Linked DNA regions of Homo sapiens: all the other regions are linked to region 3. Evidence: fine-mapped expression QTL. A gene starts in region 3. Each other region holds a variant in brackets. All regions are shown on one strand. Distances are between the middles of the regions.

Region 1 (4,237 bases), 210 kb before region 3:
TGTTTTGAAGAATATATATTGTGCAATGGTTAAACGTAGCTAATTAACAAATACACCACCTCATGACATCTTGTAACTACTCATATTTATGGGATACAATTTGATGTTTCAATGCATGACCCAATCAGGATGTTTGGCATATTCGTCACCTCAGGCGTTTATCATTTCTTTGTGGTGAGAATACTCAGAAGACTCTCTTCCAGCTATTTAGTAACATACAATAACTTACCGTTAACCGTCATCACCCCACGATGCAATAAAACACCAGAACTTATTCCTCCAATCTAATTGTCACTTTGTACCCATTGACCAACCTCTCCCCATCCTCCCTTCTCCGCTCCTTTCTCAAGTCTCTGGTAAGCACTGTTCTACTCTCTGCTTCCATGATATCAACTTTTTCAAAAATTCCACATTAGTGAGATCATGTGGTATTTGTCTTTCTGTGTCTGGTTCACTTTGCTTAGCATAATGTCCTCCAGGTTCATGCATGTTGTCACAAATGACAGGGTTTCCTTCTTTTTATGACTGAATAGTATTGCATTTTGTATATAAACCACATTTCCTTTATCCATTCATTGATGGACACTTAGATTGGTTTCATAGCTTGGATATTGTGAATAGTGCTGCAATAAACATGGAAGTGCAGCTGTCCTTCCACCTTGATTTCATTTCCTTTGGATATATACCCAGTAGTGGGATTGCTGGATCTTATAAATATTAAAATATGTTAATATCTGCATTTTAGTGCAATTGGTTTCCTTTGTTATCTGGTGTATTTTACCTTATGCATTTAAGAGCATTATTCTGAAGAGTTTCATGGACTTCACCAGCCTGCTAAAGGAGTCCACAACCTGAACAAAGTTATGGGAAGGGACAGGGGTGCTCAACCCAGCCCAACCCCACATATCCTGGGACAAGAGCCCTGATCTGGGAGAAGACTGAGAAGCCAAACCCTGAGACAGCTTGCCGTCCCCAGTGAGGACCTTCCTTAGAGTGACCCAGACATGACTCTGGAAGAGGTCCAGGAGGGTTTAGAGGAAGTCCTGTGAGTTGGGACCCAGCTCTTCTCTAAAGAAAGGGCAGAGACCTTGAGGCTCAGGAGAGCCCAGAACCCAGGCAGGGCAGAATATGGGGTGAGTAAGAGGCCTCTGCAGCCAGCTGCCTGCCTACTTATCGTCCTACCTACCAGTGGTTGAGAAGCCTCTGGGGCACCGTGTGTTGCAGCTGTCATCATTCCCATGACCTCTGTGACAGTTTCTCCCAGACCCATCCCACGCAAGCCACCCAGTCCAATTTGAGCACTGCGCATCAGTGGCAACTCCCTCTCTCCCTTGGTAACGAAATCTTTGGAGCCACAGTTTGGACTTAAGGAAGAACTTCCCTGCAAAAAACACTGAGCGCAGGGCTAGGGAGTGGAGGCAGCTATGATGAGGACAGCCAAGGAGGTTAGGAAGCCCCTCTAGCAGCTTTCAAAACCCAGCGAGATATGTCATTGTCTTAGGCTTGAAATGGTCTGGGAGCAGCCAGGTCCGAGACTGAAGACAGGGGTGGACCCACTGAGTCCCAGAACACCCTAGCAGACGTCAGACCTCTCTTTGTTTAGGCGGGCGGCCTCACTCTTGCCTGTCCAGAGAAACTGCAGGCTTGCTTTAGAAGGAATATGTTTCCTTCCACAGGCTTGCTTCACTGCTAAGGAAAAAACAATCTAAAAATAACTGAAATGCAAACTGGAG[C/T]TGATGACAGATATTGGGAGAACAAGAAGAGGTGGGCAGTGTTGGGACCTCTCCCCCAGAGCCCGGCCCAGTCAGGACAGGAGAGAGGTGATGGTGTCACTGCTGGGTGCAGCCCTTCGGATACTCTGTTCGGGGTGCCTGCCCCTAGTAACTCACCTAAGCAGCATTACCCTAAGCTAGCCCACACTGTCCTTCTGTCCCCTGCCTACCCAAACTCCACCTATGCTCCCAGGCCCAGCTTGATTTCATCATTTCCTGAAGGCTTCTCCAATTCCCAAGCCTACACTGAACTCACATAGGCTGTGAGACTAGGAGCTTTTGGGGGCTTGGCCTAATGTTACAGGCTTAGTCTGTTTTCTGTTACTTAGAATACTTGAAAGTGAGTAATTTATAAGGGAGATAAATTTATTTTTTACAGTTATGGAGGCTGAGAATCCAAAGTCGAGGGACTTCATATGGTGAGGGCCTTCTTGCTGGTGGGACTCTGCAGAGTCTCCAGGTGGCACAAGGCATTGCATGGTTGGGGGCGCTGAATGCGGTTTCTCGGGTCTCCCTTCCTCTTTTTGTAAAGCCACCAGTTCCACTCCCATGATAACTCATTAATCCATTAAGCCATTTATCCTTAAATGGATTAATCCATTCATGAGAGCAGATCCCTCATGACCTAATCCCTCTTAAAGGTCCCACCTCTCAGTACCGCCACATTGAGGATTTTCTATCTTTCTTTCTTTCTTTCTTTCTTTCTTTCTTTCTTTCTTTCTTTTCGAGACGAAGTCTTGCTCTGTTGCCAGAGTGGAGTGCCGTGGCGCCATCTCGGCTTACTGCAACCTCCACCTCCAGGGTTCAAGCAATTCTCCTGCCTCAGCCTCCCAAGTAGCTGGGACTACAGGAGCGCGCCACCATGCCCAGCTAATTTTTGTATTTTTAGTAGAAAGGGGGTTTCACCATGTTGACCAGGATGGTCTCAATCTCTTGACCTCGTGATTCACCCGCCTCAGCCTCCCAAAGTGATGGGATTACAGATGTGAGCCACCATGCCCGGCCGAGGATTAAGTTTCAAAGTGAATTTTGGAGGAGGTATTCAAATCATAGCAGTCACCTAAATCTCTGAGGAGACAGAGATCCCCAAAGGATGCTCTTAGCAGCCCCTTAATACACACAACACCCAACTAGTGAGCTAAGGTTGGAAGCTGCCAGATTTGATTCTCCATTTTAGGTGTTCCTAGGCCCCACTGTGTCTCTTATTTGAGTGCCTATGACGAGGCCCCTGCTGTTCTGAGCACTAGGGATACAAGTGCATACTAAGCGAAGTCCCTGAACTGTGTGCTTGACATGCTGATAAGCAACACAGACAGACAGACCGATGACAACATATAAACCAGTAAATAGAATGTGTCAGATGGTGGTAAGTACTGTAGAGACAGATAGAGCTGGTGAAGTCGATAGGCCTGAAGGAAAGTAAAGGAGGGAGCCACGTGGATATCAAAGGGAAGAGCATTCCATTCAGGGTAACAGCCAGTGCAAAGGCTGAGAGGCAAGGGCAACTTTAGCATATTAAAGGGACATGCACAGAGTGACCAAAGAGGAGAAAGTAGGGAGATGATAGGAGGGAAGTATGATGGAGATCACCTAGGGCCTCACAGACATTGTAAGGACTGTGGCTTATACTTAGAGTGGGCTGGGAGCTGTTGGAACATTGGAGGGTTTCCAGCAGAGGAGGAACATGGTCTCAGCCTCTAAAGGATTAATCTGGCTGCTGTGTTGAGAATCACATCAGGAGCAGAGTGAGTTGGAAGAGAAACAAGGGTAGAAGCTGGAGAGAAGGAAGAGAAGGATACTGCAGTAATCCAGGTGACAAGTGATAGTGGCCCAGACCAGACTGGTAGCAGAGGAGGGGATAAAAGTTCAGGTATTTTGAAAGCACTTATGATCAGATTGCCGATCGTTTGGTGGAAGAATATGAGCAGAGAGGAGTCCAGGTTTCTAGCCTGAGCAACGAGTCCAGAAACACAGTGAGAGACTGTGGAAGGGGTGAGTTTAGGGACTGATATGGTTTGGCTGTGTCCCCACCCAAATCTCAACTTGAATTGCATCTCCCAGAATTCCCCCATGTTGTGGGAGGGGCCCAGGGGGAGGTAACTGAACCATGGGGGCCAGTCTTTCCCATTCTATTCTCGTGATAGTGAATAAGTCTCACGAGATCTGATGGGTTTATCAGGGGTTTCCACTTTTGCTTTTTCCTCATTTCCCTTGCCACCAATATGTAAGAAGTGCCTTTTGTCTCCCGCCATGATTCTGAGGCCTCTCCAGCCACGTGGAACTATAAGTCCAATTAAACCTTTTTCTTCCCAGTCTCGGGTATGTCTTTATCAGCAGTGTGAAAACGAACTAATACAGGGACATAGATGAGAATTTCAGTTTGGGATATGAATTGTAGCTTCATGAAGAAACTCAACTCATCCGTCTTGCTAGCTGAGGTCTATCGCTAACTTGGCAGGGAAGTT
Region 2 (4,237 bases), 32 kb before region 3:
GAGTCTTTTTTTTTTTTTTTGAGACGGAGTCTTGCTCTTTCACCCAAACTGGAGTGCAGTGGCACAATCTCGGCTCAATACAAGCTCCGCCTCCTGGGTTCATGCCATTCTCCTGCCTCAGCCTCCTGAGTAGCTGGGACTACAGGCACCCGCCACCATGCCCAGCTAATTTTTGTTTGTTTGTTTGTTTTTAGTAGAGACAGGGTTTCACCGTGTTAGCCAGGATGGTCTCGATCTCCTGACCTTGTGATCCACCCGCCTCGGCCTCCCAAAGTGCTGAGATTACAGGCGTGAGCCACCGTGCCCAGCTGGAACCAAGAGTCTTAATTAAACAATCATGATGGAGACCAAGCCCACATTTTTCAGGTCACCTAATCCTGGCCTCTCCATGATCCAGTAACCTGAGTTACAGCTTTCCTACCATAAGGACTTAGAGCTAATTTCTTAAAGCCTGTAGTGGAGGCTGAGGCGAGAGGATTGATTGACACAAGGAGTTTGAGTCCAGCCTAGGCAACATACCAAGACCCAGTCTCTTAAGTAAATTTTTTAAAAAATCAATTTAGTTTCCAAATGAGATCAACATATTAACATATTATATTTGATTGCTTTGCCTTTTTTTTTTTTTTTTGAGGTGGAGTTTCACTCTTGTTGCTCAGGCCGAAGTACAATGGCACAATCTCAGCTCACCACAACTTCCGCCTCCCAGGTTCAAGCGATTCTTCTGCCTCAGCCTCCTGAGTAGCTGAGATTACAGGCATGCACCACCACACCTGGCTAATTTTGTATTTTTATTACAGATGGGTTTCTCCATGTTGGCCAGGCTGATCTCGAACTCCCGACCTCAGGTGATCCGCCTGCCTCAGCCTCCCAAAGTGCTGGGATTACAGGCATGAGCCACCGCACCTGGCCCAGGTTTGATTTCTTTAAAAGAATTCTTCACAGGTGCTATTTACCTTTTTAAACATTATTTTTCTATTTTTGTTTTGTTTTTGAGACGGGGTCTCACCCTGTCACCCAAGCAAGAGTGCAGTGGTGCAGTCACAGCTTACTGCAGCCTCAAACCCCTGGGTTCAAGCAATTCTCCCACTTCAGCCTCCCAAGTACCTGGAGGTACAGGTGTGCACCACCACGCCCAGCTAATTTTTTTTTTTTTTTTTTTTTTAGAGACAAGGGTCTCACTATGTTGCCCAGGCTGGTCTCAAACTCCTGGCCTCAAGCGATCCTCCCACCTTGGCCTCCCAAAGTGGTTCCCACTTATAAGTGAAAACATTACAGGTGTGAGCCACCATGTCTCACTATTTACTTTTTATTCATCTCATCAAGAGAAGAGAAATTCATAACATTAACTACTTACGTTAGGGGCTACAGCCCCTACCGTAATTTTCTAATCAGGTAGTTTCTTCTATGCTTGGTTAACTGGAATTTGTGTGTGTGTGTGTGTGTGTGTGTGTGTGTGTGTGTGTGACAGAGTCTCACTCTGTCACCCAGGCTGGAGTGCAGTGACACGACCTCAGCTCACCGCAACTTCCTCCTCCCAGGTTCAAGCGATTCTCCTGCCCCGGCTTCCCGAGTAGCTGGGATTACGGCTGTGCACCACGACACCCAGCTACTTTTCTTTTGTATTTTTAGTAGAGATGGGGTTTCAACATGTTGGCCAGTCTAGTCTCGAAATCCTGACCTCAAGTGATCCACCTGCCTGGCCTCCCAAAGTGCTGGGATTATAGGTGTGAGCCACCGCACCCAGCCTAACTGGAATATTTCTATAAAGAATCTTCCCTCATCAACTCTTTGTTATCCTGAAGTACCTCAACCTCAGCCTCCAGAGGAGCTGGAACTACTCAAATAGAAAAGGCAGGATCAATTCTTTCCCTTTACTGACCAGTTTTCAGAATGAGTTGGTTTCCTGGGGCATCCTCTAGAGGTCAACAATGAATTCTTTTTAGTATTATCATGAACTGGTGGCTTTTTTTTTTTTTTTT[TG/G]AGACGGTCTCACTCTGTTGCCCAGGCTGGAGTGCAGTGGTGCGATCTCGGCTCACTGCAACCTCCGCCTTCTGGGTTCAAGCGATTCTCCTGCCTCAGCCTCCTGAGTAACTGGGACTACAGGCAAGTGCCACCACGCCCAGCTAATTTTTTCTATTTTAGCAGAGAGGAGGTTTCACCATGTTGCCCAGGGTGGTCTCGAACTCCTGAGCTCATAGAATCCACCCACTTTGGCTTCTCAAAGTGCTGGGATTACAGGCGTGCGCCACCATGCCTGGTGTTTTTTTTTTTTTTTTTTTTTTTTTTGAGACGGAGTCTCACACTGTTGCCGGGGCTGGTGTGCACTGGCGTGATCTCGGCTCGCCACAACCTCCACCTCCCGGGTTCAAGCGATTCTCCTTCCTCAGCCCCCTGAGTAGCTGGGACTACAGGCGCGTGCCACCACGTCTAGCTTATTTTTGTTTTGTTTTGTTTTGTTTTTTTGAGGCAGAGTCTCTGTCGCCCAGGCTGGAGTGCAGTGACGCTATGTCGGCTCACTGCAAGCTCCGCCTCCCAGGTTCACGCCATTCTCCTGCCTCAGCCTCCCGAGTAGCTGGGACTACAGGCTACCTGCCACTATGCCTGGCTAATTTTTTTTTTTTTTTTTTTTTTTTTTTTAGTAGAGTCGGGGTTTCACCGTGTTAGCCAGGATGGTCTCAATCTCCTGACCTGGTGATCCGCCCACCTCAGCCTCCTAAAGTGCTGGGATTACAGGCATGAGCCACCGCACCCGGACTGTATTTTTTTTTTTAGTAGAGACGGGGTTTCACTATGTTGGCCAGGCTGGTCTCAAACTCCTGACCTCGTGATCCACCTGCCTTGGCCTCCCAAAGCACTGGGATTACAGGCGTGAGCCACCGCGCCTGGCCAACTCATGGATTTTAAAAGCCTATTTGATGAGTTTCAGTCCACTGGAGTCAGGTCTTTTTTTTTTTTTTTTTGGAAGTGCTGTGATCGTGACTCACTGCAACCTCTGCCTCCCAGGTTCAAGCGATTCTCCTGCCTCAGCCTCCCGAGTAGCTGGGACTACAGGCGCGTACCACCATGGCCAGCTAATTTTTTTGTATTTTTAGTAGAGACGGGGTTTCCCCATGTTGGCCAGGATGGTGTCGATCTCCTGACATAATCCACCTGCCCCGGCCTCCCAAAGTGCTGGGATTACAGGCATGAGCCACCACCCAGCCCAAAGATTCTATATTATATATACAGTTTTCCACTTTTTTTTTCCTCTTAGCAAAACATCATGGAGTTCACTCCATAGCAGTATAGAGATACTCATTTCTATTCACAGCTGCATAGCACTCCAATGTAGATATACCTTGGTTTATTGCCAATGTTCTGTAGATGGACATTGTCTGAGTTATTTCCAGTCTTTTGCTATTTACACAGTGGGCTATAATGACTAGCCTTGGACATATATCTTTATTTTTGCCAATGTTATCTTTGGCTTAGACTACTAGAAATGGAATTGCTGGGTCAAAAAACACATGCATATGTCATTTTGTAGGACAGAATCAAATTCCCCTCCTGAAGAGGCAGCTGCTATAATGGTGCTTCCAGTGGTTCCTACTTCTGGGTAAATTGCCCCTTGACTGCAATTTACAGAAGTGATGGGAGTGGATGCAGAGGCTCCTGCCTGTAATCCTAGCACTTTGGGAGGCTGAGCCAGGAGGATCACTTGAGCCCAGCAGTCTGAGACTAACATAGGCAACACAGTGAGACCGCATCTCTACTAAAAATCATGAAAGTTAGCCAGGCATGGTAGCGTGTGCCTCTGGTCCCAGCAACTCAGGAGGCTGAGGTGGGAGGATTGCTTGAGCCCAGGAGTTTGAGGCTGCAGTGAGACATTCTACTCCACTCTACTCCAACCTGGGCGATAGAGCATGCCCTTGTCTTAAAAAAAAAAAAAAAAAAAAAAAACTGCTGGGATGTCACTTTCAAGATTAAGTACCAAAGGACTGTGACTTCTGTTTTGCTCTCATACATTCTCTGTCTGAGAGCTGGGAGCTTGTCTTTAAGTAGAAACCCACCCATCCCCAGGGAGAAGGCAGGAGGGAAAAGGAGGAGAGGTCACAGACAAGCCCCCTGACTCTGTTGATCTTCACTGCAGTAGCTTCTCATTACAAGCAGGCATCTGGCCATTGTAGACCATTATAACTGTAGTTCTAGAAGTAATAATAGCAGATTTATTGTACAGAAGTGTCCACGGGCTCACAAT
Region 3 (4,237 bases):
TGGGAGTTAATAGATCCCTTTCTCGGCCGGGCGCGGTGGCTCACGCCTGGAATCCCAGCACTTTGGGAGGCCGAGGCAGGCAGATCACTTGAGGTCAGGAGTTTGAGACCAGCCTGGCCAACATGGTGAAACCCCGTCTCTACTAAAAATGCAAAAATTAGCCAGGCATGGTGGCACACACCTGTAGTCCCAGCTACTCAGGAGGCTGAGGCAGGAGAATCTCTAGACCCAGGAGGCAGAGGTTGCAGTGAGCCAAGATTGGACCACTGCGCTCCAGCCTGGGCAAGAGAGTGAGACTCCATTTCAAAAAAAAAAAGACCCCTTTCTCCTTCCTTTCTCATGGCATCAGCCAGGTACCAGAAGGCAGTCAGATGAGGCACTCTTCTGCATTCCAGCTTCAGCCACAGATGGAGGGGAAGGGATGATGTGGCCCAAACAAAAGGAAAGGAAGCCCACATTTGTTCACATTTATGGAGGGCCCATTGTAGACAGGCACATCCTAAGGTTCTTTCAGTTAATCCTTCCCCAATCCCGTGACAGGGAAAGTGTTGCCAAGGTGCACAGCTGGCCAGAGGCTAGCACAGGATTTGAACCCAAAACCTGCTGCCTCACTGCAACTGGTCATACACCTTGCAGGGCACAGAGACCCCTGCAGCGAGACCCACACAGCCACCTGCCTTCAAGCCCAAAGAGGACCCAAGGTCACTTGGCGGGAGGGAGGCTGAGGGTGCACTTAGGTGGAAGCAACATTTAGTCCAGACATTAACCCTGCTTTCACATGGCTGCCACAGGTCCCAGGTCGCTGGCTGTCCTCCTAGATATTTTTGAGGCTTCACGGCTTCCATACAGAGAATCCCTTTTTCGTGTTTTTGGTTTGTTTCATGTTTTCTTGGCACTTCCTTCCCAACTGAGAAGGAAGTAGGTGACAGAGTGTTCCCAATACAGCAAAGTTTCCGACCTGACTGTCCAGAGGCTCTGAGTGCATCCCGGAAATAAACACCCACCCTTCCCAAAGGGACAGGCCTCACAGCCTTGGATCGGATTCCTGGGCGCGACCCAGGTCCGCGGAGGGCGGGGAGGCCGTTTTGAGCTGGTGTCGCCGCCGAGAACTGTCCAGACCCAGCGGAGGGCGGCAGCACTCGACCTCTAGGCGCACCCGGTCGAGGCTCGGCCCCACCTTAGCGTCACCCTGGGCCCGCGGGCGGCAGGAGGAGGTCAGCGGCCGCTGCCCGTCCCCTTCTGGCCCTACCTTTCCCCCAGCCTGAGCAGACGCCCAGCGCCACCTACCCCCTTTTCCCCGGATGCTGGATGCGGCGCCTGGAGCCCTCAGTGTTCCCGAAACTCTTGCGACAGGGCCCGCTCTTCCGGATCCCCGCGCGTCCTGTCCCCTCCTGGGCCCCCCGCGCACCCCAGACCCAGGGCGTCCCGGCGGACTCCGTCCTGCCGCTGCAGCCACCTTCCCTAAAGGCGTCCGTGCGTGCTGAGCCGAAAGGACCCAACGCCCGGGAAGCGATCTTACCTCGGGTACCCCCGGCCCTGAGACCTGGCGACCGCCGCCCGGGGCCCAGGACCCTTCCCGCAGCGAGGAGGCGGGGCGGGCAGAGCGCGCGGCCATTGGCCATGTGGAGGGGCGGGGCTACTCGGCCGCGCGTGGTTGGCTGGCGACGCAGGCGGCTGCGCAGCGGGGACGGTCACTGGGCCTTGGTTTGCGGGTCGGGAAGCGCTAGACTGGGCTCGGAGAACCGACCTGATTTTTTGCTGGGGGCGCGCAGTCTCGAGCAACTTCCAGGGGAAGTCCGGTGTCCGGCCAGAAACCAGGCAGGTGGCCGGCCTCGGAGTCATCGGGGGGCTGAGAATTCCATCCCCACGCTTCCCAAGTGAAGCAGCCCCTCCTCCCCCTGGGAACTTTGAGGGGTGAGGGTCTTCGTGTCGTTCTCTCCGGCACCCCCATGGCCTGGCATACAGTTAGTGCCCAATAAACGTTGGGTGCCGCTGAAGTCACAGGGGCAAGGATGCCTATCCTGGAGACGTGCACGCTGGGCCTGTGGGAGTGGGAGCGGGCGGGGGACTGCTGGGTAGGTAGGCGCAAGGCAGGGACGCCAAGGTTGGCTGGCGGGCAGGCTGGGTATGGGTTGGGTGCTGCGTGGGAGAGGCCTCTTACGCCCAAGGGCCTGGGACAGGTACCTCCCGCAGTTCCTGCCATCTGCCTCGCCCTTCCCCTTCTGGGGCAGAGGCCAGCACTTACTGAGCACCTACGATCTTCCAGGCACAGGGTCTTCTATTCTTTTTTTTTTTTTTTTTTTTTGAGACAGAGTCATGCTCTGTCGCCCAGGCTGGAGTACAATGGCGCGATCTCGGCTCACTGCAACCTCCACCTCCTGGGTTCAAGCAATTCTCCTGCCTCAGCCTCCCAAGTAGCTGAGATTACAGGCACATGCCACTGCGCCCGGCTAATTTTTGTATTTTTAGTAGAGACGGAGTTTCACCATGTTGGCCAGGCTGGTCTCAAACTCCTGACCTCAGGTGATCCTCCCACCTCGGCCTCCCAAAGTGCTGGGATTACAGGCGTGAGCCACTACGCCCAGCCTCAAGTGAGGTTTTATTACTGTACTTTATATCCCTGTGAATATTTCACAACCTTCAGCATTTACAAAGTATGCTTAATCACACCTGAACTGTAATAAAACCAGCTCTGCCTAGTTTAGCCAAGAGGGCATAAATGTTGATTAGTTCAAGAATCAATCCTGCCTGCTCCCCACCGGAGCAGCTCTAGCAGCTTCATATCTAATTCTTTCAGGAAGAACATTGAAAGTGTAGGAGCGGGCTTCCAAGTGCAGCTATCACTCCTGTCTTTGCTGGACCTCAAAGAGCATTCAAACAATCCCACTGCCTGACTAGGTGGTTCCCTGCCACCTATCAACAGCTTTTATAAAGATTTAGACAAAGAAGAACACAACAACATGCTTATGGTATTCCTATCAAAAGCTCATGATCTGAAACTAATCATAGGGAAACAGTAAGCAAACCCAAAACGAGAGACATTTGACAGCTGTCCTATCCAATACAATGGCTACTAGCCACATGTAGCTATTTTAATTAAAATTAAATAATACTTAGAAGCCAGTTCCTGAGACCCACGAGCCACATTTCTCTTTTTTTTTTTTTTTTTTTTTTTTGAAACAGAATCTCACTCTTTCACCCAGGCTGGAGTGCAGTGGCCCAATCTCGGCTCACTGCAACCTCCGCCTCCCGGGTTCAAGTGATTCTCCTGCCTCAGCCTCACGAGTAGCTGGGACTACAGGCGCATGTCACCACGCCCGGCCAATTTTTGTATTTTTAGTAGAGACGAGGTTTCACCATATGGGCCAGGCAGGTCTCAAACTCCTGACCTCAAGTGATCCACCCACCTTGGCCTCCCAAAGTGCTGGGATTACAGGCGTGAGCCACTGCACCTGGCCCATGAGCCACATTTCAAATGCTATTTTCATGTAGCTAATGGCTTCATACTCGGTGACACAGAGCATTTCTATTTTTTTTGTTTGTTTTGTTTTGAGACAGAGTTTCACTCTTGTTGTTGAGGTTGGAGTACAATGGCGTGATCTCGGCTCACCACAACCTCTGCCTCCCAGGTTCAAGCGATTCTCCTGCCTCAGCCTCCCGAGTAGCTGGGATTATAGGCATGCACCACCATGCCCAGCTAATTTTGCATTTTTAGTAGACACGGGGTTTCTCCACCTTGGCCAGGTTGGTCTCAAACTCCCGACCTCAGGTGATCTGCCTGCCTCAGCCTCCCAAAGTTCTGGGATTACAGGTGTGAGCCACAGCGTCAGGCCCAAACAGAGCATTTCTATCATCACTGAAAGTTCTATTGGATAGCACTGCTCTGCAGAATAACTCTTCAAAAATTTCAAGGTCAGGAAAAACAAGGAGACTGAGAGACTGCTCCAGAGAAAAGGACACCAAAGTGACATGACAACTGAATGCAATATGGGAACCTGGGTTGGATCCTGAAACAGAAAAAGGACTTCAGGTGAAATCCAAATAAGGCTTTTGGATCAGTTAACAATAATCTAGCTGGGCATGGTGGCTCACGCCTCTAATTCCAGCACTTTGGGACGCCGAGGTGGGTGGATCACCTGAGGTCAGGAGTTTGAAACCAGCCTGGACAACATGGTGAAACCCTGTCTCTACTAAAAATACAAAAATCAGCCAGGCATGGTGGTGGGCACCTGCAATC

Evidence for each region. PIP is the estimated chance that this variant, and not a neighbour inherited with it, causes the effect. A credible set is the group of variants that fine-mapping cannot tell apart.
Region 1: its variant is the best candidate, but not a certain one, in a credible set for the expression of MAVS in whole blood (TOPMed, PIP 0.82).
Region 2: its variant is the best candidate, but not a certain one, in a credible set for the expression of MAVS in whole blood (INTERVAL, PIP 0.80).

Annotation. Positions count from the first base shown.
Region 1 is chr20:4,049,650-4,053,886 of GRCh38, reverse strand. No RefSeq gene overlaps it. Among named protein-coding and RNA genes, the nearest start is that of RNF24, 36 kb to the right of the region's middle. The variant C/T (reference allele first, on the strand shown) is at 1,734.
Region 2 is chr20:3,876,064-3,880,300 of GRCh38, reverse strand. MAVS (mitochondrial antiviral signaling protein) reads right to left here. Exons shown (of 7, transcript NM_020746.5): 7 at 4,183-4,237. Among named protein-coding and RNA genes, the nearest start is that of PANK2-AS1, 11 kb to the left of the region's middle. The variant TG/G (reference allele first, on the strand shown) is at 1,980.
Region 3 is chr20:3,844,186-3,848,422 of GRCh38, reverse strand. It overlaps MAVS (mitochondrial antiviral signaling protein), which reads right to left and starts at 1,589. Exons shown (of 7, transcript NM_020746.5): 1 at 1,520-1,589. RefSeq lists silencers at 1,313-1,692, 2,123-2,172 and an enhancer at 3,534-3,673.